Regions from separate parts of the Homo sapiens genome. Here all the other regions are linked to region 3. Evidence: fine-mapped expression QTL. A gene starts in region 3. Each other region holds a variant in brackets. All regions are shown on one strand. Distances are from middle to middle.

Region 1 (8,107 bases), 30 kb before region 3:
GAGCATGGCACCAGCATCTGATGAGAGCCCTCATGCTGTGTCATCCCATGGCAGAAGGAAGAAGGGCAAGAGACTACACATAAGACCAAGAGCAAGAGAGCAAGAGGGGCCCAAACTCACTTTTATAACAAGCCCACTCTCTCAATAACTAACCCACTCTGCCAGTAACAACATTAACCCATTCATGAGGGCTCTCATGACCCAATCACTTCTTATTAGGCTCCACCACCCAACACTGTTGCATTGGGGATTAAGTTTGTAACACATAAATTTTGGGGAACATATTTAAACCACAGCAACCACCAATTGATAAATCAATCAATAAAATATAATATAGCCATGTGCAACGTAACGATGTTTCAGTCAACAAGGAACCACATATATGACTATGGTATGGTCCCATGAGATTATATCACTGTTTTTTACTGTACTTTTTCTATGTTTAGATATACAAATACTTAACAGTGGGCTCCAGTTGCCTACAGTATTCAGTGCAGCAACGTGCTGTACAGGTTTGTAGCCTAGGAGCAAAAGGCTATTCCATATAATCTAGGTGTGCAGTAGGCTACACCATGTAGGCTTCTGTAAGCACACTCCATGACACTTGCATAATGAAGAAACTGCCTAATAATACATTTCTCAGAACATATCCCCATCACTAAGAAGTGCATGATTATATATCTATGCCATGGAATATTATTCAGCCATAAAAAAGAATGAAGTACTGATAGATGCTACAACATGAATGATGTTTCAAAATATGCTGACTGAAAGAAGGCAGTCACAAAAGGTTACATGTTATATAATTCCATGCATTTGAAATGTCTACAACAGGTAAATCCATATAGATAGTATGTAGACTAGTGGTTGCCAGGGGCTGCTAATTCTAGTAATTACCACTCTGTTAGACTCAATTTCGGTAGCAGTTTTTATGTGGGAGGAGGAACTGGGGAGTGACAGCTAAAGCAGGGCTGCTTTTGGAGGCATGAAATGTTCTAAAATTGTCGTGATGGTTGCACAACTCTGTATATACTAAAAATCACTGAGTGGTACATTTTAAATGGGTGAATTGTTTAGCATGTAAATTATATCTCAATAAAGTTGTTAATAAAAAATAAAAAAGAGTCACAAACCAAAATCATCCCTGAAAGCACTCTGAGTACTGGGCAGACAATACTCCCAATTCCCTAAACAGAATCCTCGAGACACACAGCTTTTAGATCCCACAAAATGATTTTTCTTTTTCTTTTTTTTTTTTCTTCATTTTTCTTTTTAGAGACAGCTCTGAACACAGAATGATTTCATAATCAGGGACATTTTTGAGACAGGAGACTTCATGGTTCCAGGCTTTGAGTGAGGTGGAGAACTCCTAAAGGACCCACCCAGGAGATGACACTGCCTGAACAGATAACTGTCCCTGTCGCCTCCCACTCCACTCTACAGCGACACCCCTTCCACAGCAGTCAGCTGTTTTCCAGGTACAAGAGACACCTCACCACCCTGGCCAGTTTACAGACCAGCTTTCGAGCCCAGAAATTTCCCTGTAGGAAATTTGTAAGGACCACTGGCTCATGGGGAGGAAATAAATCAATAAAAGGAAAAAAAAATGAATAATACTGTTTTTTTAAAGAGAGAATGGAATCATCCTTTTCTTAAGAAGACAGAAAGCCAAGGCATTATATTTAAATAAAAAATTTAAATAATTGAATGATTTTAAAAGAATTCATCTTATTAAAAGGTAGAGACCGGAAAAAAAATGAGAGTAAGAGAGAGGGCAAGAGAAAGGAAGAAAGAAGAGACAGGAGCTGGGCACAGTGGTGCGCCAGTAGTCCAACTACCTGGGAGGCCAAGGTGGAAGCATCACTTGAGGCCAGGGATTCAAGACCAGCTTGGGCAACATAGTGAGACCCCCCTCACCCCTACCTGACTGGTAAAAAATGAAAAAAATTAGTTGGGCATGGTGGCTCGTGCCTGTAGTCCCAGCTACTCAGGAGGCTAAGGAGAGAGGATCACTTGAGCCCATGAGTTTGAGGTTACACTGAGCTATAATCACCCACTGTACTCCAGCCTGGGTGATACAGCAAGACCCTGTCTCTAAAAAAAAGAAGAGCGAGGAAGAAATAACAGGGTTTCAAGGAACTCCGCCCTGATAAGTCTTTTTAGTTTCATGACACAAGCAGAGCAGGTTACTTGTGAGCTCCTCCAGGCCAGTACCCAGGAAGCTCCAGGAAGATGACGTTGGCCAGGGCTGGTGGGCTATGGCTCCCAGCTGGTCCTGGAACATGTGGCCCTGTCACTGAATCCAGACGCTGAGCTCCTTACCATGAGAAAAGAAACGTCGTCCTCCTTCATCTCCATCTGCAGCCGCTCGATCTCATGTGCCAGCACCTCCGTCTCCTCTGTGAGCTGCTTCATCTTCTCGTCGGCCAGAAGTTGCTTCTGCCTTGTCTCCTCGGCCATGGCATCCAGAATGGCCTGCTCCTCCACTCTCAAGAACTCGCGAAGCTTATCAAACTCCTGCCGGATCCGGCCTTCCAGCCATGCAGCCTCCACCTACGGAAGACAGCAGGAGGAGTCAGGGGTCAGATGTGGAGAGGACATCCATAGCCCAGCAACTTTCCCATTTTTAGCAAAGGAAATTTATGTTCAAATAAATCATGTATAGAACCCCTACAGATAAAATATCAACATAATAGTTTATAAGCACAAATTTCTAAGTTCCGATTTCAAATGGGAAAGTCCAACAACCTAATATTAGATTGTTTTGACAGGGTTTTTAAAAATAAAATCACAGCTTATATAGATGGCAACTGTAGTACTATAACCTCATCTACATACAATGTTCAGTTCCTTCTTTAGGTTGCACCATAACAAGGGAAGTCCTGAATCATAGAAATGAATGGCTGCGAATAGCAATGATTTTTTTTTAAGTATTTACCTTCCAATCTTAGGACTTAAAATTTGTCTGATCCAGAGGCTTTACCAAAAGAGCAGTAGGAAGCATTCATTTTAAAACAATCATTAAAATAATATACACACTCCAAATCACAACCACAAAAAGTTT[GT/G]TTTTTTTTTTCTTTTTGAGACTAAGTCTCGCTCTTTCACCTAGGCTGGAGTGCAGTGGTGTGATCTTGGCTCACTGCAACCTCTGCCTCCTGGGTTCAAGCAATTTTCCCTGCCTCAGCCTCCCGAGTAGCTGGGACTACAGGCACACGCCACCACGCCCAGCTAATTTTTGTATTTTTTAGTAGAGATGGGGTTTTGCCACGTTGGTCAGGCTGGTCTCAAACTCCTGACTTAAGGTGATCTGCCCGCCTCGGCCTCCCAAAGTGCTGGGATTACAAGCGTGAGCCACTGTGCCCAGCCTCACAAAAAGTTTTTTAAAAGGGAAGATAAAACCATAAATGTAATGAAAGAAAAAGCAAATAAATATTTCTCAGCTTGGAATAAGAAAGACATTCCTCGGCACAGTATGAAACTGAGAAGCCTTGAAGAAAGAATGAGATAACTGAATACACAGAAAAATAAGAGGTGTGTATGGCAAGAGACTATCATAAAGTTAAAGACAAAAATACAATTCCATGACAACTGTTGGAAAAACCATTCAAAATGTGTGCTGTGGCAATGGCAGGTTAGTAAACTCATCTTTGGACTGAAAGTTAAATACAGATGCTCCTCAAGTTATGATGGGGTTACATCCCAATAAACCCATCATAAGTTGAAAAATAGTTAAGTCAAAGCAATGAATACACCTAACCTACTAAAAACATCATAGGTTAGCCTAGCCTACCTTAAACGTGCCCAGGACACTCACATTAGCCTACACTTGGGCAGAATCATCCAACACAAAGCCTATGTCATAATAAAGCACTGAGTGTCTCATGTAATTTATTGAATACTGTACTGAAGGGGAAAAACAGAATGGTTGTATGGGTACTCAAAGTACAGTTTCTACTGAATGCATATTGCTTTCGTACCACAGTAAAGTCAAAAAATCATAAGCCAGGGACTGTGTGTATGTTTACAGCTCTGAAAATATACGAAAAGGATTCACTGAAAAAATGAAAATGGCCAAAAAAATTGAGAATGATCCACTCAAAAAGAAATGACAAACTAGGAAATATATTTGCAACATTTATGACAAATGGCTATTATTATTAATGTACAAAGCACTCTTACAAATCCACTAAGAGAAAAGACAAATATTCCAAGGGAAAAAAAGAATGTGAATTAGCATTCACAGAAGAAGCATAAATGACTATTATGCTTGTGAAAAGATGTACAAACTTACCAATAATCAAAGAAATGCAAATGAGGACAAACAGCATGGTTAACCTATCAGGCTGAAAAGACTGATAATGTCTGCATTGGAGAGAGTAGAATCCAGGGTGATTCTCTTTTTTTTTTTTTTTTTTTACATTTAAGTTCCAGGATACATGTGCAGGACATGCAGGTTTGTTACATAGGTAAATGTGCGCCATGGTGGTCTGCTGCACCTGTCAACCCATCACCTAGGCATTAAGCCCCGCATGCATTAGCTATTTATCCTGATGCTCTCCCTCTCCCCAGTAATTCTTATCACACAAAAACATCAAGAACACAGCATGGCAGGAAAAACCAGCAAGTGCAAGGTCAACTCCTGCCCACTCACCGTGGGCAATGACGGCCTCACTGTAAAGGAACAAACACCAGAACTTTCACTTTCCTCATCGACCTGATAACTGAATTTAATAGAAAAAGTACTAATCAGGCTGGAATTCTAGGGGCTTCCCATGTGACCTCATTACCCTTAGCCTCAGCAAAAAGCTCAGGACTCCTACACTCCCTGGGATGGGCAGGCAGTGCCACCACACAGACAGACAGATACTCCCTAAGTATCCCCAACCCAGTCCTGTACAAGGCAAGCCAGTCATATGGCTTTAGCCACAGAAGGAAACCAAGTAAGAGAACAATGATAAAGCTACATGACTCCACGATGACTACTGGAAAAACAACTCAACAAACTCCAGCAACAGCAGGTTCGTAATCGCTATTTGGAGTTGGAATTTCAACATGTATTTATGGCTCTGACATCGGATGACAAAATAATCTACTGAACAAAGTGAAAACTCTCTCCCACCAGTTTGTTGGTCTATTAGACATCAGAAATGTTAAGGACTTGTCTCTGTTGGGCACTTGTATGCATTATCTTATCTAAATTTTTTTTTAAAAACCCTAGTAAAAGGGAATTGCCCTCTTTTTACAGAGGAGGGGATTAGCTTGGAGGGGGTTGAGGGATTTGCTGGGGAACTGGGCTTAGATTTGGAAATAGGTCTGCTTTGCGGTTACTGCCCTGGCACCCAGTGTGTCACATAATCCTTTCTTCCACACTGTTCCACCAGCTCTGTGGCTCAGGGTAAACTCCACAGCCAAATGTTAATGAGGCTCTTTCCTGGGACTAATCCTCACCTATGGACACATGGTGGAGGGGACCGCAGGCTCCTGAGGACAGCGCCCAGCAACCTGGACCAGGCATGGCTCAGCTGTGGCTAAGATGAGTCTAACAGAGTGGTAATTACTAGAAGCAACCACTTCAGAAAGCCAAAGACCAGAGCCAAGATCAACAGTCAGAAACAAGGTTGCCAATCCACACAGGACCTGGAGGAAGAGAGGGTGCCAGGCAGAACAACCAGAATGGGGACAGAGGGAGCCCACTCATTCATTTGATTAACAGTTATTGGTCACCTACCCACTTCACTCATTCAATCAACAATTTTTATTGGTCACCTATTGTGTGCCAAGAACTCCTCTAGATAACTGGCAATAGTGTGCCCTGTTTTCATTATATTTTGACAGGAAGGGATAAAAAGCAAATAGAAAACAAAAGGTAATTACAGGTAATGAAGTGTCATTAAGAAAATAAACCAGGAAATTATGCCATCGAGTAAAAGAGGAGGATGATCAGGAAAAGCTTCTTTAAGAGAACATCTGAGCTGAGATTTTAATGGCAAAGATGCTGGGCATGTGTTCTGGGGAGAAGACTTAGTTTGCTTAAGGGACAGAAAGAAGGTGAGGCAGAGAAGTAAATGAGGTTGAGGATAGGCAGGGTCAGGAGATGGCCTTGGAGGCCATGGTAAGGAATCTGGGTGGTACTGAGGGTGACTGGAAGCCACTGGCAGTTTTAAGCAGAGGAGGGGCACGGCTGGTGTTTTTTTCTAAACGATCACCCCAGTCCATGGAAAGGAGAATGCACAAGAATGAAAGCATGAGGCCCTAGGCAGGAGGCCCAGTGAGAGATGATGATGACCTGGACCAAAAGGTGGAGGGTTTTACAGAAATAACATACTTTGGAGATAGGGGAATAGGATTGCTGATGGAGTGGATGTGGGAACTGAAAGAAAACAAGAAAGTACATGAGTCCCAGGTCATCATTGAACACACAGGTGGCAGTGATATGATGCATGTGCCATAGTGCAGATGGTGTTGGTAGCTTTTTAAGTCACTCCTGTGGCTGCTGGCATGACCACGCCTGGGTCTTTAGAGGGGCCAAGGCAGAGAAGCCACAGTCAGCATCCAGGACGTGGCTGCACAGGACCATCAGAGGTAAGGCAGCCGACCTCTACCCAGCGGGTTATGTGAGCCAAAGCCACGGCTGACACATCTTCACTCCTCCCCAGACTGCCCTGAGTGGACCCAATCTTCCCACTTGGCCCCATCGTTCGCTCACCTGATTGTGCTTGGCGATGGCCTCATAGGAGCGCCGCATGGCCCAGAAGGCCTTGGCCTTCTCCCGCAGTGCATGCTCCATGTTCCTGCACTTGGCCTGACATGGGAATGAGAGAGAGGGAGGAAGACAGGTTAGGGCTGGAGGCTGGGCAGAGAGGGCAGACACATCACATTTACAACTGGGACTCCACTTCAACACAAGTGTAACTCAACTGCATTTGCCTAACCCCATCCATGCCAAGTGCTCTGGGCACAAATGGTAAGTAAGGTCCTGATCCTGAATCAGACATCCATGGGATAAAGAGCCCTCAGACATCCTGTAGCCCAGCCTGGTACAGACTGGGAGATGGGGCTGAGAAGAAGCAAGCTGCTCTCTCTCATGTTGGTCACAGCACAGGCCAGAAGAGTGTCCCATGTGGGCCAAAAGCTGGTTCATGCTGGGTCTGAATCCCTGAGCTGTGTGGACAACTGCAGACAGTGTGGTCATAGGTTCCCTCTGCAGTTTCCTAAACTGAATGGGTCTGCAATCTCTAATGTGAGGTGACTGACAATGGGGGTGGAGCCAGTCATTTCCCACGGGGTTCAGTTACCTCCCATGAGGCCTCACCTCAACATGCCCAACATGCCCCTCCATACCCCTCCTGCATCCTGACATTCTAACACTGCTTGTATCGCACGGAATACTTTAATCAGCAGGCACAAATACTTTTGGTTTAGTAGTTTTTGTTTCTTAAACTTTAATGATTGTTTCTGATGTCCTTGGACAACTTGAAGAACCACTAGAGTGTTTTAGGTTGGATTCCTGCCTCTTGTATCTTAGGCCTATCATTTTTTCTCCCTCATTATCCTTTTCGATCTACATTCTCAGAAAGCTTCTCAAGTTTTTTCTTAAGAAAAATAATTCAAATAATTATAAATGGTTATCATTTATTCAGTACTTACTCTGTGCCAGGGACAACACCAATTACTTGAGAAATTATGTCATTTAATCATTACTTCTCCCTAGTAGATAAGTAATATTATTGGCCCCATTTATAGATGAGAAAGTGAGGCACAGAAGGGAAATGACCAGCCCAAGGGCACACAGCTAGTATGTGGAAGGACGTGAACCTGGACAGCTATGGAGGCAGCTGCTGAGACAGCACCCAGTGATCCCTCCCTCCTGTGAGATGAGAGTGTTTTAAGCTGCTAAATGTCGGGGTGACTGGATATGCAGCAATAAATTATACAGATGTGTCGCCCAAAGCCTCATTCCCATCTGGACCTGATTTAGATGACAAATCTGGACTTTGGGCTGATGCTGTAAAGGGATGAGATGTTTGGAGAGCTTGGGAGAGGGCCAGTGCATTTTGCATGTGGGAGGGACATGACTCCTTATGGGGCAAAGGACAGATTCAGGCAG
Region 2 (8,107 bases), 30 kb after region 3:
AATGGTCTCCAAGATGTTAGAAGTGATTAATCTGGGATTGTAGAAATGTTCCATTTGCCTTTAAAATAAAAATACAAAAATAAGAAAGCATAAAAGTGACTTACCTAAGGTTCCACAGCCACACAGACAAAGAATTTGTCTAGACCCTGAATCTGTTGACTTCCATCCCTCTACTGGTCCTAATGGATTCCATCTGAGGCTAGAACTGAGTTTCCAAAAATATCCTTTACCAAAAAAAATAAATTAATTAATAAATAAATAAAAGTGTACTAATGCCTCCAACTAGTCTTTGCAATGTAAAACTTTCCATTTTCAACATTTCACAATCTCCAGGATAATTTCATCAACATTATCTTTTGAATAAAACATAGACTTATCTATGGGGAAACATTACACCTAAAATGTCAGCAGTCAGCAAATCTCTCAAAAGACACCTGGTTATGTAGGATTAAAACCACCCGTTGAAGGGCAATGTGAAAATGGAACCTCTGTTTGACTTTCGTAACCCACTTCCCACGTAGCCCATCCACTGGAGGGAAAGAGAAACTGCTAATGGGATGGTAAAAGCAGTTTGAATGCCATCCCCCGCAGAAGCTCCTGTCTACAGCTTTTGTTCCCATGGTCTCTTCAATAAATATGACTCAGGCTGCTGTTTGGGCTTCACTTCCTCTGGGCAGGGAGCTGACAGCAGCGGCTCTGCTGTGCCCATCATGGTTGACTCAGGGGACCCACGGCGGGGGGGCTGCCTGTCCTCTCCCCAGCTGACCAAACACCCTTCTGCTCTTCCAAGCGCTGCTGTCCCTGACTCTTCTAGCTTTCAAAGTTCTCACCAATTCATAAGGCTGGTGGCTCCCCATCACCCCATTACTTTTTCTAAAGCAGTGCTGTGCACGTATCTTGATAAGCTGCCAAAGTGCTTTTTTCACCCACCTACTCACCTATAGAATTCATAGTCTCCAGTGTAGGCATGACGCATGGAAGGCCAAGGAAAGGCCAACATGTGTTCCTGCAAAAAACAAAAGCAAAAGACAGGAAAAGCCTCCCAACCATCTCACCTCTTCTAAATGCTTGTTGGAGCAAGACCACAATCTACTTAACGTCTTCAGGGGTGGAGGGGGGGCGGTCATCTGGGCCAGCCTACACTTGTAAACTTCTTTTTGCTATAGAATCAGCTATGAAAGGAGCTTTCACTTATTTGGATACACATTATTTGATATGGTTTGGCTGTGTCCCCACCCAAATCTCATCTTGAATTCTCATGTGTTGTGGGAGGGACCCGGTGGGAGGTAATTGAATCATGTGGGTAGGTCTTTCCAACACTGTTCTCATGATGGTGAATATGTCTTGTGAGATCTGATGGTTTTGAAAAACGGAAGTCTCCCTGCACAAGCTCTTTTTGCCTGTTGCCATCCATGTAAGACGTGACTTGCTCCTCCTTGCCTTCTGCCATAATTGTGAGGCTTCCCTAGCCATGTGGAACTGTAAGTTCAATTAAACCCCTTTCTTTTGTAAATTGCCCAGTCTCAGTTATGTCTTTATCAGCAGTGTGAAAATGGACTAATACATTATTATTCTAAACTCAAGGGGATGGATTCTAGAACAAGAACTGTAGCATTTTACATAACAAGAACAGTTACAAAGGATTGAATAAAGAGTATGGGGGTCTCCTTCACCTAAGCCAGCCCAGGCTACAGTCACCTAAAGGATACAGAGAAGTGGAGAACCACATTTTCACGGGACTGCTCATCTAGTCTTGGGATTAAAGGGGATTAATTGCAAAAATATTTAGTTAGCAATCCAAAAATATTTAGCGTCCACTACAGAAGAGACCCAGAAGATTTACGGTATAAGTTTGCCATAAGCTACATACCAGTTGGGCTGTTAATGTTGGGGGCTGTGTTTTTCTCCAATACTCAAGGGCAGTAGGGAGTGGATGGGGAGATACCACATCAGGCTAGTCAGTCACCCTTGGCTTTGGGATGGCACTCCTTGTCCAAGAAAGTGCTGTTTTTTGCTAGGACATCTCAGATGCAGGGTGCATTGCTTACCAATCTGCTGTGAAATTTTCTCCTCCTTGTCCTTTCTTCATATGGGATAGGAAAGGCCCAGCTTGGCCTAACTATGCCCTCACACGCTGATCTGTGAGTGTGAGTAAACACAGCTCCTAACTCATTCACTCATGCATGCTCGCTCTCTCTCTAACACACACACACATTGATCCTGTGGTCACCATAGCACAGCCCTGTATCTACCTAGTAATGGCAGACCAAGACAGCACTTGAACAGATGAGGCAACTAGGGTAGGGCTGTTCCCAGGGGAGGCTGTTCAGGAGGCACGATTTCTACTGCTCAGCTGCATGAAGGTTAATAGCCTGGAGTGCCAACTCCGTAAACCTTATCAGTCACTTAGACCTGACTATGGGTGGCTCTGTAAGATATTTCCCAAGAGCAGGGGACAAAGAGCCTCAGCAGAAATGGGCCTGCTATTGAAGATGAAGCAGGGAAAGGCAGGTGTCACACCCCTGTTTATTGTCCCAGCACTCTTTTAGTTGCAGATGACAGAAACCCAAAAGAGAGGATTCACCTTGGCTCACATACCCAAATTAAGGGAAGATTCAGGAAGCAGCTGAACTCAGGTGTGGTGGGAATCAGGACCTCATCCCAGAACCTCAGACATCTCTGTGTCTGCCCCTCTGCCTCTGCTTCTGTCTCTCACATCTCTGGCTGTCATTACATGTTGGCTTAATTCTTTCAGAACAACTTGTGCCAAAAGAAAGGAACTTGGTGGCTAATGGTGTCTGAGCTCCCAGCCATAGCCCTATCACCCAGAGAAAAGCCCTTTTCCCCAAGCTAAAGTAAAAATGCCAAAGAATAACTCTGATTAGTTTGGCTAAGATCGTGTGTCCATTTCTGGACTAACCCCCACAGCCAAAAGGGTGGGGTACTGTGTTTGCTTCCTCTTGATTAATGTGCCCCATCCTGTGGTCCAGGCCAGGACGGGGAGGAAGAGGAGATGGTGTTCTGTGATGAGCCGTCTCCACTAGCACACAAGGCTGGCCTGGGAGGAGGAACAGTCTCACAAAGAAAGCCAGTGAAATTCTCCCAAGCAGGGAAAGGAGACGTTGCAGACAGATGAAACAATTGAGGTCACCTGCAATCTATGTGCAAGCAGTTTTTGATTTGCGGCCGGCAGGTATGTTGACTGTTGGGAGGACTGTTAAACTTGGAAAACAGGAAAATAGTGACATCCGAAGTGCTTGAAAAATGGCAGCGTGTAATTATAGCTGGGAACAAAATAAAACTTTGCAGAAAGAACAGGTAGTGAGGGTGTGAAGTATATGTCAATAAATCATTTACATACCGCTGGGCTGTTTGATGATTGTTATTCTATGAAGGTAA[A/C]TGAGCTTGCCTTCCTTGTCTCATTGGCCTGCTTGTAGGATCTCACCAACCAATTTGTGTGTTTGCTCCTTGTTCTGTCTCTCCTGGGCTGGAACCCAATGTCAATATTAGGGATGGTCTTCCGACGGAATCATCCCTGATTTTCAAGGATGATATTTTTATTATACTGCTTATGTCTAGAGCTGAAAAACCACCTTGCTCTTCAGTCTTGAGGGAATGATGTTCTTACAGTAAACGACTCTTTTTGATTCTGCCTCTTAACTCCCCAGACTATACTTTGTTCTTATTCAAAAGGAGCATTAGCTCTAATACTCTGCTACAGGCTGTCTAATAACAACCTCCCAAAGATGTCCGCATCCTAATCCCAGAACTTGTGCGTGTGCTACCTTACATGCCAAAGAGACTTTGCAGATGCAATTAAGTTAAGGATAGTGGAATGGGGAGATTATCTTGGATTATCCGGTTGGACCTAATGTTATCACAAGGGTCCTTTTAAGAGAGAGGCAGGAAGGTCAGAGTAAGAGAAGGCAGTGCAACAACAGAAGCAGAAGTCAGAAAGAGGGAGGGAAGAGAGAGAGAAGAGAGACAAGAGAGAGATTGTAAGGCACTATGCTGCTGGTTTTGAAGATGGAGGAAGGAACCGCGAGCCAAATAATGTAGCCTCTAGGAGCTGGAAAAGACAAGAAGAAGGATTCTCCCCTAGCACCCCAGAAAGAAGTCAACCCTGCTGGCACCTTGGTTTTAGGACTTCTGACCACCAGAATGGTAAGATAAATTAGTGTTGTTTTAAGCCACTAAATTGGTGGTAATTTGTTACAGCAATAGTAGGCAACCAATACAGCTACCTTTCTGGAGAGCAACTTGGCAGCATGTACTAAGAAATATGAGTGTATTCCTTCTGACTCAGTAATTCTAGCTCTAGGCTTCTCTCCTAGTGAAATAATCAGATCTGTAGAAATACACTTATATATTTAGAAGTTTGAGGCTACGCATGGTGGCTCATGCCTGTAATCCCAGCACTTTGGGAGGCCGAGGCCAGTGAATCACAAGGTCAGGAGTTTGAGACCAGCCTGGCCAACATAGTGAAACCCTGTCTCTACTAAAAATACAAACAATTAGCTGGGCATGGTGGCAGGCACCTGTAATCTCAGCTACTTGGGAGGCTGAGGCCCGAGAATTGCTTGAACCCGGGAGGCAGAGGTAGCAGTGAGCCAAGATCATGCCATTGTACTCCAGCCCAGGCGACAGTGCAAGACTGTCTCAAAAAAAAAAAAAAAGTTCCAGTATTATCTAGAATACTAGAATAGTAACACCTTGGAGCCGTCTGAGAGCCCTACTGGTGGCTCTATCTCTATTATAATTACAACACTGTTCAAGTAAGAAAACATGGCCCCCTTAGTGATGACAGTCCCTCTCTATGTGGCTTCCAGCAATGTGTTATGATCGCAGGTTGGGGTGGCCTGTATTAGGAAAAGACTGTGATGACAGCTTTGCTGTTGATCTATTGATTCAACAAATGCTTACTGACCGTATTGGGCCCTGGGCCAGAGCTGAGGGCAAAGAGTAAAGGACATCTATGGGATTGTAAGGAAGCTGCAAGAGTCTGGCCAGGGAGATGGTTATCAACACAGAGACTTCACAGAATACTTGGTGTTTTACTTAAAACTTGAAGGATTGATAAGAATGAACTGCAGCTGAAAAGCCAATGAATTCATGGAATGCAGTATAGATCCTCACTGCTCACGAGGAATTCTGAAGGCTCTGATGAACTGCAGCTGAAAAGCCAGTGAATTCATGGAATGCAGTATAGATCCTCACTGCTCACCAGGAATTCTGAAGGCTCTGCAGCCTGAAGCAGGACTAGCCCTCTTGTCAAAGAGCTGCAGTCAATAGCGGAAAAACGTAAACAATGCAAATGTCCTTTAATGGGAGACTAGTATATTCACACCATGAAATACTACTCAGCAATGAAAATGAACAAACTATTGACACGGGCAACGACCTGGATGGATCTCAAGGGTATTATGCTGAATGAAGAAAATGTTCATCTCAAAAAGTCACATACTGTATGATTCCATTGACATCACATCCTTTAAGAGATGAAACTGTAGAGATGGAGAGCAAACTAGGGGTTGTGGAGATGGGTGGTGGCACGAATGTGTCTAAAAGGGGTAACCCAAAGAAGTCTTTTCACGGTGATGAAACAGTTCTGTATCTTGACTGTGGTGATGGTCTCATGAGTGTGTTCACAGGATGAAATTGCATGGAACTACATACATACCACACACACCCACACATACGAATGAATCCATGTAAAAAAAATAATGAAAATGGGATCAGGTCTGTAGTTCAGTCACAGTATTATATGAATGTCAGTTTCCTGGTTTTGATATTATTATTCTACAAGGTGTTCCCATTAGGGGAAGATGAGTCAAGGGTACTCAGGACTCTATGTGCTATTTGTACAACTTCCTGTGAGTCTATAATTCTTTCAAAATAAAAAGTACAAAAAATACTGACAAATTAAAATTCCTCTGACACTTCTTCTGTCTCCAAGAATTTTCTCACCACTTGTATGGTTCCAGAGCCACTTCAGTTGGTGTTTAAATATTAATCCCTCATGGTCCTCACATCATTTCCAGGGGTCTTCTCATGATCTTGTAGGATAGGGAGGTAACCAGCAACTGACAGCAGAAGAGAATGGGAAATTCATTTTCTTGCAAATCTCCAGTGCAGGGGGCCACCCCGTGCCTGCCATCTCCCTTAACCGCTATCAGGAGCATCATTTCCCAACCACCAGCTTTGAAGGAAATTGGGTCTCTTGTTGTGAAACTGGGCTTTCTTCTCTCTCCTTTGTCAACTCTGAATGAGAGAGGGGAAATGGGTCAGGTTAGAGAGAGGAGATGCCTTTTTTGAAGAGGAGATCTGAGTGAGATAAAGATATAGATAGCCAAGAGTAAGTGAGATAACAGAGTAGGTGCTCTGGCATAATAGAAAATGCACAGGCTTGGAATTACAGCTGCATTCATTCATTCATCTGATATTTATCAAGTGCCTAATCTGTGCCAGGCATAGTTTTACATGCTAGGGATATGGAGTGAAAATATGGTCCCTAGCCTCATGGAGATTATGTCAGATGACTGCAATTTAGACTCTATAGCTCCCCAGTCATGTGACCTCTGAAAAGTCACTTAATATCTTTGAAGCTCGGTTTCTACTCTGTAAATTGGGGTTACTAGTAGTAATTGGGGTAACCAAGCCAACCTCATTGGATTTCTATGGGGTTGCATAAGAAGGTTTACTTAGTTCTTAGCACAATGTCTTAAACATAGTAGACGTTCCCTTTTTCTCATTAGTTCTCTTCATCCTCACTCTTTGCTCCCCTCCTTGGTAGATTGGTTAGAACCATCTAAATTCCCCCAGGGCAGCACAGGGCTGTGGATATAGCTCTGCACTGTAGGTTCAGCTGAGTTAAGCCATCCTCAGTTGAGTTGACTGCTACACAGTTTTGTAGCACTCAGGCCAAATGAAACCATGAAGAAGAAAAGAAGCAATACTTTTTGCATTTCTGTCCATTTTTGCTTTATATTTTTAATTGTCTGTGTTTTGGTGCATATAAGCTTATGATTGTAACTTCTTGGCAAATTTTTCCTTTTTAACATGATTCCTCATAATCATATTTTTAATGTTTTTCTTCAAATCTTATTTGCTATTTTATATATCAATATCAACTTTCACTTAGTAACTGGTTTATATTTTTCTGTCTCTTTATTTTTAACTTTTGATGTCTTAATGTTTTTAGGTTTGCTTCTTGTAAACTACAGATAGCTGGATTTTTAAAAAATTAAGTCTAAGTGTCTTTGTCTTTTAACAGGCAATTTAAGCTTCTTTATTTATTAAGACTTCTAATATATTTAGTATATGTATACTACATTATTTTGTTTGCCATGCTTCATCTTTGCCTTTTCTCACCTCTTGCCTTTCACTGTATTGATTATGTGTTTATTATTTTCTCCTCTTGTAGCCTATTGGTTTAGAAGTTATATATTAGGTTTCTATTATTTTAATGGAAAAATAGGTTAAAAATAAAACCTAATAATAGGTTTCTATTATTTTAATTTTTTAACACATACTTGAATTTAAGGTCTAACATTAATCAATATCATTATCCTCCTTACCAAATTGGAAGGATTTTATGGCACTTTGACTCTAATCTTTCTCTTCTCATGTCCCAAACTGTTGTCCACTGGTATTATAGTATTATCTTCTTTTCAACATCTCCCCTCCCCATTTTAGCCATTAGGATTATTATCTTGGACTTTGCATACCTTCTTTTTTTTCTATTTAGATATTGCAAATATATATATTTTTGAAACATACATAGTCTTGCTCTGTCACCCAGGCTGGAGTGCAGTGGCGCGATCTCAGCTCACTGAAACCTCCACCTCCCAGGTTCAAGTAATTCTCCTGCCACAGCCTCCCGAGTAGCTGGACTACAGGCATGCACCACAATGCCTGGTTAATTTTTTGTATTTTTAGTAGAGAAGGGGTTTCACCATATTGGCCAGGCTGGTCTCAAACTCCTGACCTCAAGCGATCTGCCTGCCTCAGCCTCCCAAAGTGCTGGGATTACAGGCGTGAGCCACTGCACCTGGCCTTGCAAATATACTTTTTATTGTCTTAAGTTATTCCATTTACTTCAGTTCTT
Region 3 (8,107 bases):
GGTCGCACCTGGTCACACATGCAAGGGAGACTGGGAAATGTAGCCTTCATTTTGGGCAGGCTGTGACCATCTGAAAGTCAGGGATTCCAATATTAAGGAAAGAAAAGAGAAAGTTCTTTTTTAGGTTGAGGGCATGATTTTGAGTTCTATTCAAGCCATACTCAACTTATTTTGGCCTCAACTGTGGCCCACTTCGTAAACATAGTGATGTCTGGTTAAATTAGAGGTAGACATCCCTTGGTGATGAAGTACTTTTTTCAGTACTTGTACCCATAAGTTTTTCTTTGTCCCTTTTTTTTTTTAAATGGACTATCACTCTGTCACCCAGGCTGGAGTGCAGTGGCATGATTATAGCTCACTGTAACCTCTGCCTCCCAGGTTCAAGCGATTCTCCTGCCTCAGCCCCACCAAGGAGCTGGGACTACAGGCATACACCACTATGCCCAGCTAGTTTTTGTATTTATCCATTTTTTTTGTTAGAATACTTATAACCATACTGTTCTTTTAAAATAAAATTTATTCTACATAATAGTAAATTTACATGATGTAATTTAAATTCCATCATTTACAATGGAGAGATGCCAGTTACATAATGTCGCAGCCCTGCCAATGATGGGTTTTGCTCTTTACCACCTGGGAGCCTGTGAATAATTTATTTACCTTATCCAAGCTTCCTTTTCCTTTCTGCAAACCAGGAATAGGACTAGCAACTTCATAGACGGTTGTGAAGACAAGCTAGACGGCAGATGAAAGTTCTTGGCACAGAGTGAACACTTGATAAACTATATGGCAGGTATGTATGTACTATCTCCCCATAAAGCTTACTTTAATTGCTATCATTTCTAAAAATTATAGCTATAGAATTTTTCATAGCATTTGTACACCTATCACTTAATTTGGGCTTCACAATACCCTGGGAAACAGGTAGAACAGATAATACTTATTTTTCTACTTTTCTAGATTAGGAAATAAAAGCTCAGAAAGATGGATTCGCATGTCCAAAGTCACAACCTCTTCCCTCTTGACTGGATCCTTCCTGTGAGCATTGAAACCTGCTCTACTGGCTATCATCCTAAATGACAAATCAGTCCTCTTTCAACCCACGACCCCCTCCAATATCCCCTGGTCTCAATTGCCCTTGGCAGTCAAGCTTTCCAGGACTCATCAGCGCGTGCCGCCTCTGTGTCTTCACTTTCAGTTTACTTATCAGCCCACCCCACTTGACCTTTGGCTCTTCATTCATTTGCTCCTGGTAAGAGCTTCACTTGAAGTCCTCTGCTGTCTCTGACTCTTGCCTTAGACAAGTTTATCCATTCTTGTGGTTTCAAATGCCATCCCAAAAGTTAATCACCAGCTCAACCACCTTTGTGATCTCCAGTTAGTGAAAAGATAAGAAAAGAGAACCTGAACCAGGATGGGTCAATAGGACAGGAAAGAAAACGAGGAATAGGAAAAAAGTTTGTGGGACTCCCAGGACTTAGAGATTGGAGATTGCATGGCTGCAGGGTAAGGAGGGAGAGGGAGAGTCAAAGGTGACTTCTCTTTTGTTGACATTCACAGGGAGGGCTGGAACGGGGCTTGTTTGAAGAGCAATATGAGCCAGGGTTATAGACCTGAGTTTGGGGTAAGAGTGGAACATCCAAATGGAAGAGTCCAGCAGCTGAAAGGACATTTGTTCAAAGGCCTTTTTCATTACAGTTTTCTCCTTCTTCTGATCCAGGTATGCATCCCCCCAACACCCCCACAATTAGGGCCTCCCACATGGCACTTGGTCAGCTTGAGATACAGAAGTAGAAGGGAAATATTTTTCTTCTCTAACTGGGGTAGATCATTATTGCAACTTATGCCATATGGAGAGCATCGCCATGGATAGTGTCTTTTAGGGATTTCCATGGAATTTGAGGGCTCCTGAGGCATTTCTGATGGGTTTTTTTAAAAGGCAGTAACAGGCAGAAATGCATGACCTTGTCACCTGAGTTGCTTGTACATGACACTGGACAGAACCTAGGGAGACCTGATGGCGGAGTTGGCCACCCCAGAGAGTTTCTCAATGTCTTTTTCATTTAAAAAGCTATGGGTTTATGATTCTGTGAGGTAGATTTGGGAGATTCTTTTTTTAAAGTGCTGAAGAATTCAACAACCTCTGAAAACTCACCTTTCCCAGAATTGGTCCCAGCAAGATAAGATTGTAGTTCATTTATGTGGCCACACAGGGGCAGCACACACAAACTCTCCTTTTCTTAAACAGGTCTTGATTGTCTTTGCTTTTAGTTCCCACTGCCACCTCCTAGTACAGACTCTCAACAACTCACCCAGGTATCTAACTTTTGTGCCACTCAGCCTTCATCACTTCATTTCCAAGCGCAAGAATACGGAGGGGACACCCACTGTCAGATGCCCTCTGACCATGTCCTTGCCATGTAGTCAATTACCTGCCTCCTCATCCCCACACCTTCCCTGCTAACTTCAGTGTACCTCTGTCTGACTTGCCTCTCCATCCCTGGCCAAGTTCTCCCACCTGACCACCTTCTGACCTGCTGACCGCTGTGTAGTCACCAAGATTACCTCCAAAATGCTGAGTGCTGGGAACGTGACAAATCTGTGAATAGCACAAATGGGAAGGGGTGGGGGGGCTCCAGCTGTCAAGGCTGGCAGTGCCCATCAATGGGTTGTGAGCCCCATGCTGGGCAGGTGGGCCCTAGCTGCAGAGAGTCTGATCTTCATCGGACCCAGAGTGACATCCAGCCAATAGCTATGGGTAGTCCACTAATTATACTTTGAGAAACATTGACTTCCTAGCTTTGTTAACTTATCTAAGTCTCCAGTTTCTTTTCAGAAATGGGAAGGAGTCAGTGCAATCTTGGAAACTGAGTGCTTCCTCAGCACAACTCCAGGGGGCGCCATTCTCAGAAAGTACATTGTGAATAGCATCCTCTAGAATTGTGCAACAGGGCAGCTCTGGGAATCAGATTCCAATCCTGCACAGGACACAGAATAAAGAAGCTTGGGACAGGGGCTCTGGAGAGGACATTGTAGGATGAGGATGATGCTGCGTACACTCCACTTTTTTCACTTTATGCCAAGTCCAGGTCACTTCCTCCTCCTACTCAGGAGCAAGTCTGGAGTTTTCCTAGGGATAGGGAAGAAGTGTTGCTAAGTGCCCTTGAGTGCCTGCTCACATATCACCGGCCTGAGGAAAGAGGGGACCAGCCTCTGGGCGGGGCCCCTGGAAGGGGCTGTCCAGCATCTCTAACTATTCTTGTGCTGTCCTCAGACCCTACTTAGTCACAGCTCAGGGACCTGGTCTTCTGTGTTCAGGGACCTGGACCGGTTCTGCCAAAATCCCTAGTGGTATTTATGATTTTTCATGCCTGCAAAGGGACTGGGGCCACTTTAGGACATGGAGAGATTAGGACACAAGTGCTCAGTACCATGTAGATATAACATCTCCCACTGCGGGGGGTCTTGGGAGAACCAGCCTGAGAAGTTGGTTTCCTCCGCCCGCCCTGCGCCCCCACCCACCTCACACACACCTTTTGGCCTCCAAAAGGCTGCAGGTGGAGTGGACAGAGGATGGAGGGGTGTTAGGAATTGGGGAGTTAACTGCTCACAAGGGGCACATAACATCCGAGGATCCCATTTGCGGCCGGGGGAATGGCAGAGATCGCCCCCCAGGTCTGCCCGGCGCTCAGGGAATTGGTGGCAGCGTCTATTTCAGAGTTTATGGTAAGAGGCTGGAGCCGGCACACACAGACAACACACCCCACCCTTTAAGGAAGTGGGGAGGAGAGCAGCAGGGGTGTGGTTAACAACTCAGAGGAGGAGGGAGAATCTAACCTGTCAGCCCTTTTACTCAGCCACAGCCTCCGGAGCCGTTGCACACCTACCTGCCCGGCCGACTTACCTGTACTTGCCGCCGTCCCGGCTCACCTGGCGGTGCCCGAGGAGTAGTCGCTGGAGTCCGCGCCTCCCTGGGTGAGTCCCTCCCGCGAGCCAGGGCTGAGCGCTGCGCCCGGCAGAAGTTGGAGGCTTGACCGGGTGGCAGGGGTTGGGGACAATTCCGGGATCCTGGGCACCTGAGCTGGGAGTTCCCGGAGAAACGGCCAGACCCAGGAAATCGGAGCCGTGGGTGCTGTGCACATGCCCGGAGCTCGCCAGCCTTCCGCGGGGAAGAGGGGTTCTATTTTTGGAGTAAATTTGACACTATAGGGTGTTTCTCCCTCTTTGTCCTCTCAACATATTCAGACAGGGGAGGCTGGGGGAGGCTAGGGGTGACGGTGTGAGGGCACAGCCAGGCTGCTGCCTCTAAAGCTCAGGTTAGGGAGCCACGGGGTTTCAGCTCCTGCCCCCGCTCCCCGCTCCCTCCCGGGCCCTTCCGCAGCCCCAGGGGTTATAGTCTCACCCCCAGCCCACCCTGACTCTCCTGCAGCCACTCCTTGCACCTGAGAGGTCATCTTCTGAATCAAGCCCTGGCTGGAGGAAAGCAAGGGTGTTCTGGGGCACAGGGGAGCTCGTGTGTATGTGTGTGTGTGTGTGTGTGTGTGTGTGTGTGTGTAGTTAACACTGGCCATTCTGGTATCTTGAGAAGCCGCCTCCTGAGTGCCACTCAAGGGTTAAGTTCAGAGCTGCCTCTGCCTGCTGTCAGGCTGCGCGTGGGCACCGCTTTGGGTGGGTGAGCGTGGAGCGGCATATGGGTGATGTTCTGCAAGCCCTGCCACCTGCCCTAAGCCTCGACCACATGACACTGGCATCTCCCTATACCCCAAACTGGGAGCAAAATCCAAGTCCGCTCATTTAAGGAGCCAGCAGAAGGACAAGAGCAGAAAGTTGTGCCTAGAGGTGGCTTTAGCCAGGAGGAACTCGGAAGCTGCGCTGTGGCTGGGTCTGAGCCCACTGGGGCAGTGCACGTGGTGTGATGTGGTGGTGGGTGCTGGGAGGCCCCTCTACGTGGGATGCTCTCTGTTCACCCCAAGTGCTGTTGCTGAAGGCCCTGTCTTTCCCAACCACTCTGGGGGAGGGGGAGGAGGACACTGATGAAAAAGTGACTAAAGACAGAAGGGAGGAAGGAAGTAGTCACACTGGAGAGCCCCAGCATTGGTGGGACAGTCTGCAGTCATCCATTCAGGAGGCACTCACTGGCTTCCCACCTGCGGCCAGGTGCAAGGTGTGGGGACAAGGTGAGTGTGGCATGGCCTCTGCTCACCAGGGCAGTGTGGGATACCGGGTGGTTGAGGGAGGGCTGCCAGGGGAAGGTGCAGGGTACTATCCAACCCTGCACTAGAGGGCTGTGGGGGGAGCCAGTCAGCAATGGCCAGGAGGGCGTCCTGGCAGAAGTGACTCCAAATTGAGAGCTGAAGGATGACTAGAAATTAGCACAAGAGAAGAGGGGAAAGAACAGCAAGTGCAGAGACTGGAGGCTAAAAGCAGCAGGAGGCTGGAAGCAGCGGGCGGCATCCAGGAAAATGAAAGTAGCTGGGCTTGTTGGGAACCTAGAGCGTGCAGGGGCGAGGGGAAGCTGCAGGGGTGAGTGGAGACTGCTCTAGAAGGCTTTGGAAGGCCTGCCAGGCTGCCATGGCAACTTCTGTTGGAGCAACACTTGGGACCTGGAGCCAGGCAGGAGACTTCCCAGCAGGAAGAGATTGCCAGATTTAGCCAATAAAAGCACGGGACACTCAGATTTGAATTTCAGATAAGCACTCAATGGTTTTTTTTTTCACTACAAATATGTCTCATGAACTACATGGAACATACTTATACTCAAACATTATTCACTGTTTCTCTGAAATTCACATTTAACTGGGTGTCCTGTATTTATCTGGCAACCCTACTCTAGGAGAAGCTGAGGTTGGCGCAATGCTGTGAAGTAAAGGCTGGAAACTGCCCAGGCACTCTGAGAACAGTCTCAGGTCTATCTTGTAACCATTCCTCCTGGATTTTATTATGAGCTCATTTAAAAAACAAAAAATCAATTCCTTGGTCAGTTTATTCATCTATACAGGTGAAGGAGTATGGTACCTCAGAAAAAACGACATTAAATCCAGACAGATCTGGGTTCAAATCCATGTAGACCGGTGAGCTTCTCTGACCCTCAGAATCCTCTTTTCTGAAATGAGGGCAGGAGTATCTGTTTGTGCAGGTGGTTGGGAGGATCCCTGATAATGTATGTAAATTGCCTAGTGAGTACTAAAGGAAACATGGTACATATTGAATTTTGCAACACCTTCACAGGGTTGAGCAAAGCAACAGCCACAGAGTGCTTGGGTTCATTTACTTCCACAAGTGAGCACTTGGAGGTCTCAGGTGAAATACATAGTAGGGTTCATGCTTCCAGTGAGAACTCGTGGGGTTAGCCCTTGGGTTGGGGACAGAGTCTGCATTATGTTTTTAGCTTTGCTACTCCCTTCCCATATGACCTGCTTCAAGGGGTGGAGATATAACACTCTTCTTGAGGGATGGTGGGTGGGCAGAGAGTGACTCAAAGTAGAATTAACTGAAGGGAAATGTGAATGAATTAAAGTAGAGAATCCAGATAAAATATTCAGCGCAGACAAATGCGCCATGAAATTTGGCTGTCATGATTCCCAGTTTTAGGATGAGTTCCTTATTAGAAAAGTAGCGCTAAGAGATAGAGGAAGTGAAGGTGCCTTATGAACTGGATTTTGACTTTAATGGGAGCATTTGTAACAACAAATTAGGGTCCTCCTAAAAGGGAACCTAGAGGAAGTTAAGAATTCGTTAAGAGAAAGAGGAAATGGAAAGTGTGTTTCCCTTGTGGGAACGGCTAGGTTAAAAATGGTCCTTCTTTCCAGTGGCTAAATCTCCCCATCCCCCTGTGATAAACATTTTGTCCCCAGGCCCTTGGATTGTTTGCCCAGGTGGTGTTGAGAGAGACCCTATGGCGTGAGATGGATAGAGGTGTTCCACTGATGAAACGTTCAAATGAGCCTGCACTTGGACATGTGTCTTGAATATTTGCAAGATCAAGGTTATGATAAGTCCTGCATAAAAAGACACGTGTCATTCCCTGAGGATGGCTGTAGAGCCCATGCACATTCTCAGGGAAACAGCATTCCACATTGAGTGAACCTTGATGTGAGGGCAGTTTGGGGACCAAGCAGGTCGTTCAGAAGGCATAGCCCTTCTCATAACTCTAGCCAGGATGGACCTAATTCATTCTAGACTAGGCAGTGTCCAACTTAGAGAAGATCTTCAAGGAAGGAGCCCTTGCGTGCAACCTTTTTTTTTTTTTGAGATGGAGTCTCACTCTGTTGCCCAGGCTGGAGTGCAGTGGCGCGATCTCAGCTCACTGCAACCTCTGCCTCCTGGGTTCAAGTGATTCTCCTGCCTCAGCCTCCCGAGTAGCTGGGATTACAGGCACGCACCACCACGTCCAGCTAATTTTTGTATTTTTAGTAGAGACGGGGTTTCGCCATGTTGGCCAGGAGGGTCTCAATTTCTTGACCTCATGATCTGCCTGCCTCAGCCTCCCAAAGTGCTAGGATTACAGGTGTGAGCCACCGCGTCTGGCTGTATGCAATCTTTCTAGCATCATGCATCCTTCAGAGACACAAACTCCCACCTGTATCAGCCTGAGTCTTCCCATTGCAGATCCGGCCATGTTTCATCGTGCAGAGGACCCTGGAGAAAGTCCAAGTCCCTTGGCACTTAGCTCTCCATAGTGACGACAGTAGCTCCATGTACCCCAAATACTGCTAGGACAAAGGAAACTGATGGTGAGGCTAGGGAGGGGAGGGAGGCTACCCTGGGGCTACCCTGCATGGTAGGTCACTCAGTCTCTAGTTTCCCCTGCCTGGGACCCATATGTCTCAGGACCATGTGACCCTGGCCTCCCAGGTAAATGGCCACATTGGGGGATGGAGTAGAGGTGCAGAGCTGCGACGTGCCCGGGGCTGAAAGTGTGGTGATGAAGATAAGTTTTGCTGGCTTGAGGATGAAGAGTTTCCTTGTAGAGTACGGGTCAGTTCCAGGGTTAAGGAGAAAGAGCAGGGATAGTGGTGACTCTGCAACACTGATATGCCTTATCTGTCCAAGCAGTCGGATGGTCAAGAGCTCAGGCTCAGTCAGTCTGCCTGGGTTCCAGCCCAGG
Region 4 (8,107 bases), 54 kb after region 3:
TTTCTGTTCAAATAAAGATCCCTTTGCCCCACCCACTAGTTCTGACCTGTAGATCCAGGGCAGAACATATGTGTTTCCCTCGAGGAACATCCAGGTCCTAGAATCCACCAGACCCTTCCAGTGTTAAATCCTACAGTGCTCTCATTGACTGCCTCCTGGTCATAAGCTACTAGGTAGTGAAGGGCTGAGAACCAGACCCCACGTCTCCTGCCTCCGGGGGCCGTGTTCTTTCCCTGTCCCATGTGCCTCTCCCCGAGTGGGCACCTCCCTCCTCCCCAGTTATGCACGGGTGCCCCCAGCTATATAGAAGCGTGCCATGTCCACTTATGTCTGGTTTAGTATTCTGCCTGTACGACCTGTTTGTTCTCAGAAGAGCCGTGGGCTGCACTGGTGAGCAGGGTACCCTGTGTTCTGGAGCCTTCATTCCCCTCACCAGGCACACGGCCATGCAATTAGGCACTTGACACATGATGCCAATGTTGACAGCCGAGAATAGAACCCAAGAGTGGGAGGTTAGTCTGCTCAGCCGTGCTGTGGGATGAAGAGGTTTGTGGTTGCCACCTCAGCTTGAGGCTGAGCAGAGACCAGAGCTCAGAGTGGACGAAGCATCAGACAGGAGCCCCAGGTGTGGGCTGTAAAGCCATGGGAGAGAGTCCAGGGGTGCTTGACCTTCAAAGCCCATTCAGGTCTAAAGTCCTCAGAACCCAAGACCTAGACCCAGACAACAGGGAGCTGTAGAGTGGGTTCAGGCCAGGCCAATCTGGGCAGGACCAATAGGCTTGGCTGCCCCCACCCCAACTAGTGCCATTGGCCGTTCTGGGAGGGAGCAGTCTTTGGAGACTTCTGGTGATCATCACTGGTGTCAGCAGATCTTGTCCAAATTGATTCCTGTGGGCTTCTTGAGGTTGGGACTAAAATGTGTCTGAGCAGCAGGTGGGCCTGGACTGGAATGATCTTGAACCACACAAACCCTCATGTTTCTTTTTGTCAGAGGCATGTGAACCAGAGCAACTCCATCTTAAACAGGAGCTAGGTAAAATGAGGCTGAGACCTATTGTGTTGCATTCCCAGATGATGAAGGCATTCTAAGTCACAGGGTGAGATAGGAAGTCAGCACAAGATACAGGTCATAAAGACCTTGCTGATAAAACAGGTTACAGTAAAGAAGCCGGCCAAAACCTACCAAAATCAAGATGGCGATGAGAGTGTCCTCTGGTCATCCTCACTGCTACACTCCCACCAGTGCCACGACAGTTTACAAATGCCATAGAAATGTCAGGAAATTACCCTGATCTAAAATTTCTGGTCTAAAAAGGGGAGGCATGAATAATCCACCCTTTGTTTAGCATGTCATCAAGAAATAACTATAAAAATGGGCAAACAGCAGCCTTCAAGACTGCTGTGTCTATGGAGTAGCCATTCTCTTATTCCTTTACTTTCTTAATAAACTTGCTTTCACTTTATGGACTCACCCTCAATTCTTTCTTGTGTGAGATTCAAGAAACTTCTCTTGGGGTCTGGATCGGGACCCCTTTCCTATAACATTTTCACTCCTGCGTTTAGAACCAGAGACTCGCTGTGCAAAGTGGGAGTGAGGAGGGTGCAACTTGTGTCTCACAGCTCCAGAGGCAGAGCTGCCCCCTGCGGGTAAAAGGTGTAGAAAAACTCCTTTAACATATCCTAGGAAAGACCTCTTTGGTACTGAAAACCAACCAGAAATGGAATAGATAGGTTGTTTTTGCCAAAAGGGGCGCCTGTCATTGAAATATGCAGATGCTTGAAGGAACCAGAGGAACTTGGGTGATCTGTGATCACGGCCAACACTCAGTGTTGGGTATGTGTAGTTTACCACGTACATGATGGATATTATTTTTACTCATGTTCACAACAGTTCTGGGAAAGATAGTGCTAACATGCCCAATTTTATGGGCACGTACACTGAGATTCAGGGAGGTAACAGGATTTGTCCCAGATGATTAGACTGGGCCATGACAGAGCTCCAGAAATGTGCTTGTTTCATGCCAGTGTGATAAGAACTTTGCACACCTGGCATCCTTCTTTGGCTGCCATGGGGAGGTCTTAGTTCTAGTCCTGATTCTGTCTCCAGCTGAGTGTGGTCTTAACCCTTTCTGAGCCAGTGTCTCCTTCCTGTAAAGGGGCCAGGGCCACCTCCGGAGGCAGGAGAGAAGACAAAGAGCTAGTACACTGTGAGCTCTCTGTCACATGCACTGCCTGTGTCACGGGAGGGTATTTTTACTGAAGGGCGCCATTACATTAAAATGGAGACTCCATTTCTAAACAGGTGGGCACATTATCTCTAGCTGGAAGGAGCCTCCCCCAAGAGCACAGTTCACAGGTAAAGATTAGGAGGTGTTGAGTGCAGGTGGAGAAGGTTCTGGAAAATGTAAACCTCCTCCCCTACTTAACACTATTCCTGGCATCACCTGCATAGTCAGTCCTCAAGGGATTACTTGAAAGCTAGCACACCCCAGGGCATTTACTTTGGGGAAGGGAACATCCCTACCTTTGGTTCCCTCACTTGTAAAAACGAGGGAAGTAAAAACAAATTATCTGACATTCCCTTTAGCTTTGGTTCCTGCCATTGGTGAGTTTACAATCTTAGTTGTTACTTTTCTCTTTTATCAATATCTCCTTCTATCTTTTTCTTTCTTTCTGCTTTTCTCTCCCTCACCTTTTCTTCCCTCCACTGTCTCATATCTCCCTCAACAACCAAGGTCTCTCCTTGTAGCTAACGAGTTTAGCTCCCAGAATTATAGACCAAGACAATGATCCTGGAAGCATCAAATCTAGTCCAGGGGCTTTAGCCCAGACCTTAAGGAATCTTGGGCTATGGTGAGGGATTCAGGGGGGTTCTGCAAATATGGAAGTATTTTCAGCCAAACAATGAAGAAATAAACCACTTCAGGAGCTGAACGATCACTTTAAACAGTATGAAATATTCATATGCAAGACTGTTGGAAGAACGTCCCTCTCACCTAATCCCCTCACCTAATCCCCTCACTTTTTAGATGAGAAAAGCTGAGGTCAGATAGATAAGGTGATGTCTCCAAGTTATCCGAGTGTTGCTCTGGGGTTTAAGTTGCACATGATTCAAGAGTATAAAATCTTACAGCTTAT[CTGTGTGTGTGTGTG/C]TGTGTGTGTGTGTGTGTGTGTGTGTGTGTGTGTGTACACAAGGCAATCAGAATATTCTGTCAATAGAAGCAGAAAAGTAGAACTTGGTTCCTTCTGGGGCTCCTGAAAACTGGGGTGTAGACATAACCCCCACACTCTACTCCCACCTGCTTCATCTTATCCCCCACCCCAAGTGGAGCTAGGGGAGAGCAGCACACAGTTCCCCTCCTCACTGGCTGTCTCCTCCCTGCTGCCTCTTGTCTGTGGTGAGGCTGTGGAGAAGTGGGTTGCTGTTCTTTTTTCTGACTTCCTGTGTGCTTCAGAAACCTCAATGAACAAAGAGCTAAAGGAAGAAAGGGCCCCGGCACCGTTATGCCAAACATAGACTCACATCCGACACGGGGGAGCTGGATGCCCGATTTTTATAGAGATGAAACCCAGGATTCAGGATTCTGACTGCCCTGTTCCCAACGTGGCTGCATGGGGAATGTCAGTGCTTGGGAGCTGGAAGTAGGTCGCAGGCTTCTCATTCTTTTCAGGCTTAGGTCTAATGTATTTAAAGAGGTAGCCGAAGTGAGTCTTTAGATGTATCATGGAAATCAAACCAACATTAAAAGGGAACATTTAATTTCCTCTCTGCAACCACTGTTTTTTGTTTGCTTTTGGAGACAGGGTCTCATTCTGTCGCCCAGGCTGGAGTGCAATGGCACAGTCATAGCTCACTGAGCTTTGAACTCCTAGGCCACCTCACCCACCTGGGTAGCTGGGACTACAGGCACATGCCACCATGCCGGGGTCTTTTTAAAAATTTTTTGTAGAGATAGGAGTCTTGCCTGTGGCCCAGGCTGGTCTCAAACTTCTGGGCTCAAGTGATCTACCTACCTCGGCCTCCCAAAGTGCTAGGATTACAGGCGTGAGCCACCACACCCAGCCTACCACAGCTGTTTTAATTTCTCTGTTTTCCTTCAGTGTACAACTCAGCTGTAACCATAGGAGCACATTTCCATAGATAATTTGCATATAATCTCTGGAATCTTCATATTCCCTTAATTGAATATGCCTAAGTAGTCTCCTCATTACTTACCTTTTAGCACATGCAAGTTAATTTACGAGTGAGTCTCTCCATCCAGGTGAGAACAGCATCGCAGGGAAAAATCTGTGCATTTTATTTTTGAGATGGTATCTAAAAAAACTGGACTGCAATGGCGTGATCTTGGCTCACTGCAACCTCTGCCTCCTGGGCTCAAGCGATTCTCCCACCTCAGCCTCTTGAGTAACTGGGATTATAGGCTCCCGTCACCATGCCCAGCTAATTTTTTTGTATTTTAGTAGAGACGGGGTTTCACCATGTTGCCCAGGGTGGTTTCGAACTCCTGAGTTCAGGCAATCTGCCCGCCTTGGCATCCCAAAGTGCTGGGATTACAGGCATGAGCCACTGCACCTGGCCCTGTGCTTTTTTGATGTTGTTTTTGTTATTGTTGTTTATTATTGTTTGGACGACACATTGCTGAGCTTTCTGTCCATAAGCTCCTATTCTCAGGGACTTGCTACTCACATCATGATCCACAGGAGACTCTCGGGGTCACGTCTTTCTCTGCCCAGCCCTGGCTTCCTGGTGCTGTGTTCATGTCTGATTTTGGATCCCTGAGACCTTTTTCTCCTACCTTTCTTCTGAAAGGATAGCAGTCATTTTGTGACCTTGCTCAGGAAATTTTCAGCTGGGTTTTCCCTTTGTATTTTATTTGATGTTTTTCACCAGGGAGGAAAACTCCTGCTACCATGTGAGTTGTGCCAGGGGAGACTTGCCAGAGAAGAGCTGCCTGCAGGGGGATTTCTCGCTACCACATGCAGGGTTTCCCTACTTTGGAAGCCTCGTGGCTGGAATTTTAAAGGCCAAAGTTCCCCCAAATTTTCTGAACGCTGAATGATTGAAAACACCTATTTTTTTTTTCTCTTTTTACCCAAGCGCCTTTTTTCCCAATAAAGGGCTTGGGTAACGACAAGAAACTAAAACTGAAACCACAACTCTGCTCTAAAATAAGAGACTCAGAGACACCCAGGAAGGGCCTGCCTTTGAGACTTGTCACTCCCTGAGATCCATCGTGGCACCAAATGTTTGCCGAGCTCCGCCCTGGGAGGGAGGCCTGCAGCCTGGGAACTGGGAGACCTGGGTCCCAGTGGAGAGGCCTCACCATGTAGTAAGTCTCTCTCGATTCAGTTCTCACAGTGAGTTGAGGGCCAAGCCAGCCATTCTTCAGCCTCACCGGGTGGGTACCAGAATCACCTGAGATGTTAGGAAGGTGGGGAAAGAGGGAGGTGTTGGTCAAAGGGGACAAAGTTATTTACGTAGAATGAGTAAGTCCCAGAGATCTAATGCACAGCATGGTGACTGTACCTAAGTATGCTGTATTAGATACTTCAGATTGGCTAAGAGAGTTGATTTTTTTAATTTTAGTAATTTTTTAAATTTATGCATAATAACTGTACATATTTATGGGGTACAGAATGATATTTGAATACATGTATACTCTGTGTAATAATCAAATCAGAGTAATTACCATATTCATCATGGAAAGCATTTATCATTTCTTTGTGTTGGGAATATCCAGAATCCTCTCTTCTATTTAAAAATATACAATAAATTATTGACTCTAGTCACCCTACAGAGCTACAGAACATTAGCACTTAGTCCTCCTATCTAGCTTTAATTTGGTATCCATTAACCAACCTCTCTCCATCCACCTTCCACCCTGCCCTTCCCAGCCTATTATAACCACGATTCTGTCTACTTCTGTGAGCTCAACTTTTTTAGCTCCCACCTATGGGTGAGAAAATATAGTATTTCTCTTTCTGTGCCTGACTTATTTCACTTAACATAACATCCTCCAGGCTCATCCATGTTGTTGTGAATGACAAGATTTTATTCTTTTTCATGGCTAAATAGCACTCCATCTGTTGATGGGCACTTCGGTTGATTTCCTGTTTTGGCTATTGTGAGTAGTGCTGCAATCAATGTGGACGTGCAGATATCTCTTTGACATAATGATTTAATTTCCTCTGGAAAAAATCCCTAGTAGTGGGATTGCTAGATCATATGGTAGTTCTAGTTCTATTTGTAGTTTTTTTGAGGAATCTCCATACGGTTCCCCGTAATGGTTATACTAATTTACATTCCCACCAATAGCGTTTAGGAGTTCTCTTTTCTCAACATCCTCACCAGCATTTGTTATTTTTTGTCTTTTTGATAATAGCCATTCTAACTGGGTGAGATGCTATCTCATTGTAGTTTTGATTCATATTTCCCTTATGATTAGTGATATCGAGCATATTTTCATTTATCTGTTGGCCATTTCTATGTCTTCTTTGTTTTTCTGAGACGGAGTCTCACTCTGTTGCCCAGGCTGGAATGCAGTGGCATGATCTCGGCTCACTGCAACCTTTGCCTCCTGGGTTCCAATGATTCTCGTGCCTCGGCCATTGGAGTAGCTAGGATTACAGGTGCACCACCATGCCCAGCTAATTTTTGAATTTTTAATAGAGAGGGGCTTTCCCCATGTTGGCCAGGCTGGTCTTGAACTCCTGTCCTCAAGTCATCCATCCACCTTGGCCTTCCAAAGTGCTGGGATTATAGGTGTGAGCCACCACACCTGGTTATATGTCTTCTTTTGAGAAATGTCCTTTCAGATACTTTGCTCATTAAAAAAAAATTATTATTATTTACCATTGAGTTGTTTGAGTTCCTCATGTATCCTGGATATCAGTCCCTTGTTGGATGAACGGTTTTCACATATTTTCTCCCATTCTACAGGTTGCCTGGTCCACTCTGTCAGTTGTTTCCTTTGCTGTGCAGAAGCTTGTAGCTTGATACAATCCCATTTGTCATTGGGAGGTCAAGACAGGAGGATTGCTTGAAGCCAGGAGTTCAAGATAAGCCTGGGCAACATAGTGAGATGCTGTCTCTGTTTTTTTTTTTAATCCCATGTGCCTATTTTTGCTTCTGTTACCTGTGTTTTTGAAGTCTTACCTGCAAAATATTTGCCCAGACCAATGTCCCGAAGGATTTACCCTGCTTTCTTCTAGTAGTTTTATAGTTTTGAATCTCACATTTTAGTCCTTATTCTGAGTTGATTTCATGTATAGTGAGAGATAGGGATCTAGTTTCATTCTTCTGCATATGGTTATTCAGATTTTTCAGCACCATTTATTGAAAACACTGTCTTTTTCCCAATGTATGTTCTTGGCATCTTTGTTGAAAATCAGTTAGCTATAAATATGTGGATGTATTTCTGGGTTCTCTATTCTGTTTCATTTGTCTGTGTGTCTGTTTTTATATCAGTACCATGCTATTTTGGTTACTTTAGCTTTGTAGTATTTTTGAAATCAGGTAGTGTGATGCCTCCAGCTTTGCTCTTTTTGCTCAGAATTGCTTTGGCTATTTGGGGTATTTTTTGATTCTACATGAACTTTAAGATTGTCTTTTCTATCATATTTCTGTGAAGAATATCATTGGTCTTTTGATGGGGGTTGCATGGAATTCGTAGAGCGCTTTAGGTAGTATGGTCATTTTAACAATATTAATTATTCCAATCCATGAACATGGAACATTTTTCCATTTTGTGTGTGTGTCCTCTTCTAATTCTTCCCACCCCCCCACTCTCCCAACACACGCCGAGATGGAGTCTTGTTCTGTCACCCAAGCTGGAGTGCTGTGGTGCAATCGTGGCTCACTGCAACTTCTGCCTCCTGGTTCAAGCAATTCTCCTGTCTCAGCCTCCCAAGTATCTGGGATTACAGGCACGTGCCACCAGGCCTGGATAATTTTTGTATTTTTAGTAGAGACGGGGTGTCACCACGTTGGCCAGGCTGGTCTCGAAATGGCTGGTCTCGAGCTCCTGACCTCGTGATCTGCCCACCTTGACCTCCCAAAGTGCTGGGATTACAGGTGTGAGCCACCGCGCCTGGCCTCCTCTGTTTC

Direction of the effects. Alleles are on the strand shown, and positions count from the first base shown. SD is a standard deviation of normalised expression in the study named. Not every link is listed here.
As copies of C replace CTGTGTGTGTGTGTG in region 4, the expression in neutrophils of the gene that starts at base 3,846 in region 3 goes up (moderate effect, 0.50 SD a copy in Naranbhai 2015).

Evidence for each region.
Region 1: its variant is fine-mapped to the expression of PTK2B in whole blood (INTERVAL, PIP above 0.99).
Region 2: its variant is fine-mapped to the expression of PTK2B in whole blood (INTERVAL, PIP 0.91).
Region 4: its variant is fine-mapped to the expression of PTK2B in neutrophils (Naranbhai 2015, PIP 0.95).

The regions. Positions count from the first base shown.
Region 1 is chr8:27,291,758-27,299,864 of GRCh38, forward strand. It overlaps TRIM35 (tripartite motif containing 35), which reads right to left. Exons shown (of 6, transcript NM_171982.5): 2 at 6,707-6,802; 3 at 2,323-2,553. Among named protein-coding and RNA genes, the nearest start is that of TRIM35, 15 kb to the right of the region's middle. The variant GT/G (reference allele first, on the strand shown) is at 3,065.
Region 2 is chr8:27,351,360-27,359,466 of GRCh38, forward strand. All of the region lies in intron 1 of PTK2B (protein tyrosine kinase 2 beta), which reads left to right. Among named protein-coding and RNA genes, the nearest start is that of PTK2B, 30 kb to the left of the region's middle. RefSeq lists an enhancer at 893-952. The variant A/C (reference allele first, on the strand shown) is at 3,400.
Region 3 is chr8:27,321,707-27,329,813 of GRCh38, forward strand. PTK2B (protein tyrosine kinase 2 beta) reads left to right here and starts at 3,846. Exons shown (of 31, transcript NM_173176.3): 1 at 3,846-3,975. RefSeq lists enhancers at 3,891-4,040, 4,091-4,140, 4,746-5,575, 4,921-4,990 and a silencer at 5,733-5,929.
Region 4 is chr8:27,375,463-27,383,569 of GRCh38, forward strand. All of the region lies in intron 1 of PTK2B (protein tyrosine kinase 2 beta), which reads left to right. Among named protein-coding and RNA genes, the nearest start is that of MIR6842, 54 kb to the right of the region's middle. RefSeq lists enhancers at 74-133, 534-663, 3,041-3,230, 4,922-4,981, 5,232-5,541. The variant CTGTGTGTGTGTGTG/C (reference allele first, on the strand shown) is at 3,139.